Linked DNA regions of Homo sapiens: region 2 is linked to region 1. The links come from fine-mapping of genetic effects on gene expression. A gene starts in region 1. The other region holds a variant in brackets. All regions are shown on one strand. Distances are from middle to middle.

Region 1 (2,914 bases):
ACCCTCAAAACAGGGAGGTTCCATTACAATCTGAAAGTTGAATTACTTTACTTTCTTTATACTGAAGACTCAACAGATAGTCTCCACTGATCACACAGAGGATGCACTGTCCCTCCTTTGTGTTTCTGTAGTATTTTGCTTATATTTCTAACCCTACTCGTGATTATCTGACTTGTTACACCTTGGTGTGTGTATATCTCCTTTGTGCACTGTAAACTCCCGAGGACAGAATTCATGTTTTATATATTTCTGTATTGTTCCAGAACCTTATGATGTCTAAGACATAGGAGCTGCTCAATAAATGTTTCGACAGTTTTAATGGTACATATGTTATGCATTTTCCAATTATACAGTTATTATTAATGAATTCTCATTTCTGACATATCTCTTTTTCATTTCTTAGAACTCTTGGTTTTGAAACATGTAAAAAAGACTTTAGCAGGCTGGCACTGTAATTTGAATGATTATGTAAACAGTAAGGGAGTGCCTAGCAAATATTTGTTGAATAGTAATTTTACGAAAAGTTGCAGAGGTTTCTTTTGAGTTTTAGTTAAGAAGATCCGACCATCTCAGTGGAATAGAGGAAAGAACTCAGAGGCATGACTGCGAGGGTGTCCCAGAAAGACTACTGTGCCTTCTAGAAAAAAGACCCAGCACCCAAGTTCTAACTCTGAGACCCAGTCATATGTTTGGATCATAGCATTTCCAAGACCAAAATTTCCTCTTTAATAGTTTTTCTGAGAAACTGTCAGGTTTAACGTCAAGAAACATTTAGTCTGTGCTCATTAGGCCCACAGACATGACGAGCTACATGATTTGAGGGGCCCAGTCCAAAATAAAAATGCAGAGCCCCTTGTTCAAAACTTAAGAATTTCAAGACAGTGACGGAAGAGCATCAGCCAAATGAGGAGCCTTTTTAAGCACAGAGCCTTGTGTGGCTGCACAGGTCCCAAACCTATGAAGCTAGCCCTCTTCTGTGAAAGGCAAAAGGTCTGTAGCTAGGGAGAGAAGCTACAATTCAAATATGCACAAGGGGCTACAAGAACCCAGAGCTCCTAACTTTGTAAAAACATCACAGGGAAGGTGAGTTAAGCTCATTTTTGAGGGAGCAGCTGCATAGGGAAGAAAGATATTCCAGATTGAAGGACCAGCACTGAAGGTGGGCACAATTTACCTGACGTTCAGAAATACTGTAACTTTTAAGCAGGGTTGTGCCAGTGAACATGAGGGTGAGAACAGGTTGAGGCTGGAAAGGCAGGCAGAGGCCACATACATGGGAGAAGGGGTTGAACAATTACTGAGTGCCTCCTGTGTGCCAAGTTCTTTCTCTCCGACATTGTAAATACCACAATCTTGTAAATACTGGGTCATCCCTGTTTTACAAACAGGTTAATTTAGGCATCACACAGATTTAATGTTCAAAGGGTTTGGAACACTCTAGGGATCTAATAAATATTAATATTTGAAGAATTACTGGTGGGTCTGACTTAAGGCACACAACTCTTACCCTTTAGGCCAAGCTGCTCCTAAGAGTTCTTCTTAATCCCTCCAGTCGTTGTTTCTCTCATCTCTCAAGAGCCCCCAAATTACCCTTCCCTCCCTTAGCCACGCCCCCGCGTTTCACGTGCCGGAAATTAGGAGGAAAAGTACTTCCGGGATAGTAAAGGTCGGCCCGCGCAAGATGGCGGCCCCCTTGGAACTCAGTTGCTGGGGAGGCGGCTGGGGACTCCCATCGGTTCACAGCGAGTCCCTGGTGGTGATGGTGAGGCCGCCTCGCGGGCCAGGGCGCAGGAGGAAGGGGCGGGGCTGGAGGCGCCAGGCTGACTTGCCCCAGTTTCCCGCTGCGCTGCGGGGTCCAGGAGGGCCGAGCCGCTGCACGCTGCATTGCCCTGGGCTCCCTCCCACCGACGAGTCCCAACCTGGCCGATACCCCCGCCGAAGGCCGGCGGCGACATCAAGGCTTCTCCGCTTGGCTCCGAGTTTTGTCCGCCTCACAAAGCTGTCTGGGCGGTGGAGTGAAACCCCGAAGCAAGGGGCGCGCCCTCCCTACTCTGCATCCCCAGGACCTTTTGGGGAGCAAAGTCCTCGAAAGCCGGGTGGCTGGCGCCCGCGTCCCTACTTGAGATCACGGGGAGGGATGCGGCCTCAGTATCAGTCGCCTTCTGCCTTTGGGGGATGGGGCTGTGAAGTAAAGCTGCTCTGCAGCTTTGCATTACGCACTTGGTCTAAAATGTTTGATTGCAAACTCTGTTTCAGGCTTATGCCAAATTTTCTGGTGCACCCTTGAAAGTCAATGTGATAGATAACACCTGGAGAGGTTCAAGAGGTATAGTGTAAACCTTTACACTCCCCTTTCTGCACTCTTTTTTTTCTTCTTCCATTTAAAGCTGTGAGGTATATAGCTATAATATTGAGGATTTAGTTTCTTACCGTGACCTTGGCTCTGTGTTGTTTATGGTTTGATCATTCTGAGTAATACCTCAAAGTGCAAGCGAAATCACTGGAAATTATGAGAAACGAAAATGTTCTTTAGAACCGCTCTTTGTGAAACAGCAAAAAAACCAAGACAAGCTTACTCATTTTTTCCCCTCTAAATGTGCAACTGCTATAGTTTTTAGGATATTGGAATCTCTCAGAGGAAATCACACTGTGTCCTTGTATGTAAACTGTTTTTTGATTATAGGCGATGTACCAATTTTGACAACTGAAGACGACATGGTTTCTCAGCCAGCAAAAATACTAAACTTTTTAAGAAAACAGGTGGGTGGTTCACTTTGAAGAAGTAGATTGGTAGATTGTTGATCCCTGCATGTTGGGCTTTATTTTATTTATTTATTTTTTTTTGCCAACTCATTAGACAATTGGAGATACCTGGGACAAGATGTAAAAATAGATTTGAGAATCACTGCTCTAA
Region 2 (2,914 bases), 81 kb before region 1:
AAACCCCGTCTCTACTGAAAATACAAAAAAATTAGCCAGGCATGGTAGCGGGCGCCTGTAGTCCCAGCTACTTGGGAGGCTGAGGCAGAAGAATGGCATAAACCTGGGAATCGGAGCTTGCAGTGAGCCGAGATTGCACCACTGTACTCCAGCCTGGGTGATAGAGTGAGACTCCGCCTCAAAAAAAAAAACAAACCAAAAACCCTCTCCGGATGTTTGCATCTGTCTCTCTGCAGTTGGGAGACATGCCATACCTGTCCTGATTGGTGTCACAGGAGTCCCCAACCAGATCATTATCCACATCAGACTGCAAAGAGAACAGCACATGTTATTTATTCCTGGGCCTGCATGTACCGAATGTTCCAGAGAAGGCAGACCTCACCCATCATCATTGGATTTGGGGAATTATTTCTCTGGAACCGGGGTGGTGCAAAACTGCAAAAGGACAACACCATATTGGTGTAGGCACAATGCTGAATTTTCAAAAAAGCCTTCTAAAATATCAAGCTACATGGATGGGCTGCCCACACACCAGATGAGCTGATTGGAAAGGGGCGCTGGGGTAGCATGGTGGCAGGTGGAGGCATGGAACTCTGGCACGGGTCACAGGGAGCCAGCCATAGGCATGGGGAGAAGGCAGGTTGATTTTGCTTTGCTTCTGCAATTTGCAATTTGGCCAAAATCATGAGTGAGTCACAGAGGGCAACCATGACTCCCCTCTCTCAGGGCTTTAAAAATAAATGACACATCATACCCAATTATCCAGACAGGGAGGAGGAGTGAGAAGGGAGATGCAACACATCCCTGGCTGAACTTAATCTGAAATGTCCATACATAGGCTGTGTAGGGGTTTAGGGACTAAAGGGACACAAGGCTCCCAATGGTTAATTTCCATGCTCCGTTTTCCTTTCTGCAGGAAAAATACTTGTATTGAGCATCATGAAGTTCGTGTTACTAACCTCACAGGCAATCGACAGCCTGGGAGATAGTCCCTAGGGCTTCAGATCTTGTGTGGTGTTCATCCCACCATCTTCAGGCCCACAGTGTGTCATTTTTCCACCTCTGCTTTGTTAGGTAAGTGGCAACAGCTAAGAGGCTCTGCTGTTTTTCTAGACACCCGTCTTAAATGAGTCTTTGCATAGAGGAATTCAGCCTGGAGTTTGAATTCCCCAGTATCCTACTAACCTGGTTAGGGTTGCTGACATCAGGACAACTGTCACAGGCATCCCCCACACCATCACCATCCTTGTCCCGTTGGTCACGATTGGGAAATTTTGGGCAGTTGTCCAGAATGTTTTTTATTCCTGTGAGAAAGAAATGCTACCTTGAGTCAGGGGAATGTCACTGACTTCT[TCTA/A]GGTGCTGGAGAGATCAGGCGCATGGTGAGTCACTTCTGCCTGGGCCAGTGTCACACAGAGACTACCCTTTTCTGCAGTTATCCAGAGGTAGCTTCAAAGGACGGATTCTGGGAGACTTAAAAATGAACAGCTCTCAGAGGTATTTATCGACTGAATTCTAATTTGTCCAAGATGTCAAGGGCTATGATAGCAACCACGAGGAGGGGATCATGATGGCTGTATGGCTGACCCTGGAGAGGGAGGATCTCGTGGGTATCTGAGCTATGACTGAGACCCTAGGGCTCTAGGCAGTGTTGTGCTGGAGCTGGGTCCATTGTGTCCCTCTCTTTTCAGTTTTGTGTTTGATGATGTCACATTGGTAGCTTGAAATCAGCAATGAGGACAATGCGGAGTTACATCATGGAAACTGGAAAATGCTACCAACTAGGGCTTTCTGTGATTTGCTTACCAGCATATACCACTGGAAATGGGTCATCAGTTAGGCTTGCAGAAGGTGAGGTCATGTTTTAGGGGGGTGTGCATGTTCTGGAGTGGTGTATGTGTGTGTGTGTGTGTGTGTGTGTGTGTGTATGTGTGTGTTGGGGCAGGTGGTATTTCAAAAAGGTTTTTCCTTCAAGGGCCCACAATGGGATGTGTAGCCTGTGATGCATAGTCTGTGACCCTGCTCAATGCCTTCTCATTCAGTTCTCCACTTCTGGGTCTCTCACATGTAGAAAGGATAGTGGAGAGTGAGGACAGGTAGAAATGGGAAGGGAGATACCCCATAAAGACACACTCTGACAAGACACTGCTTGAAGGGGTCATACAAAGTTTCTGGCAATGATACAGAGTCCTGGAAACATCCAGAGCCATTAGGTAGTGGAGTGGGCTGTGGGGTCTCCTTCCATAGACACAAGTCCACCTTGGGTCTTCCAGATGCAGGCCACAATGAGCCACCCACAGCTGGAAGGCTCCGAATCAGTCATTCTATTCCTACTCTCTCAGAGAACAATGGAACAAGGTCAACTGAATTCCAAATAAAAGACAAAAGCAAGATAAATCTACCATCTCCATCCATGTCATCATCACAGGCATCTCCTCTTCCATCCCCATCGGTGTCTTTCTGGTCGTTATTTAAGACACTCAGGCAGTTATCACAGGCATCCCCAAAGATATCTTTATCGCTGTTCCTTTGGTCCACATTATGAATCAGGACACAGTTATCCTAAAAGATGAAAGGACAGAACATCACTCAGACTTTTACTAAATCCACTTCCTCCATTGTTGTGAAGCATCAGCACTCTGGTGGCCCAAGTTTGTCAGTTTTATATTTCAAACATCTGTGAATCTTATAGGGTAAAAAGCTGCAGTGCTGTGGAATGCAGGCATGGAAACTAACATTTGGGATGATTCATATACATAGTTGACATCACAGGCTTTCTCCCATCATCCCTGGTACGTGGCAATTCACAGGCCCTCCCAGCGAAGCAGGTACCTGCTCATTCAGGATCCCATCTCCGTCAGCATCCTCGTCACAAGCGTCGCCAATGCCATCTCTGTCTGCATCTTCTTGGCCAG

Evidence for each region.
Region 2: its variant is fine-mapped to the expression of MTX3 in whole blood (INTERVAL, PIP 0.96).

The regions. Positions count from the first base shown.
Region 1 is chr5:79,990,006-79,992,919 of GRCh38, reverse strand. MTX3 (metaxin 3) reads left to right here and starts at 1,658. Exons shown (of 9, transcript NM_001363818.2): 1 at 1,658-1,762; 2 at 2,257-2,326; 3 at 2,684-2,760. The coding sequence starts at 1,682. It also overlaps a transcript of THBS4 not described here. RefSeq lists an enhancer at 1,991-2,160.
Region 2 is chr5:80,070,668-80,073,581 of GRCh38, reverse strand. THBS4 (thrombospondin 4) reads right to left here. Exons shown (of 22, transcript NM_003248.6): 12 at 2,832-2,914; 13 at 2,402-2,561; 14 at 1,186-1,304; 15 at 255-307. It overlaps THBS4-AS1 (THBS4 antisense RNA 1), which reads left to right. Exons shown (of 8, transcript NR_109930.1): 4 at 917-1,074; 5 at 1,359-1,496; 6 at 1,691-1,850. Among named protein-coding and RNA genes, the nearest start is that of THBS4-AS1, 12 kb to the left of the region's middle. RefSeq lists an enhancer at 2,194-2,914. The variant TCTA/A (reference allele first, on the strand shown) is at 1,354.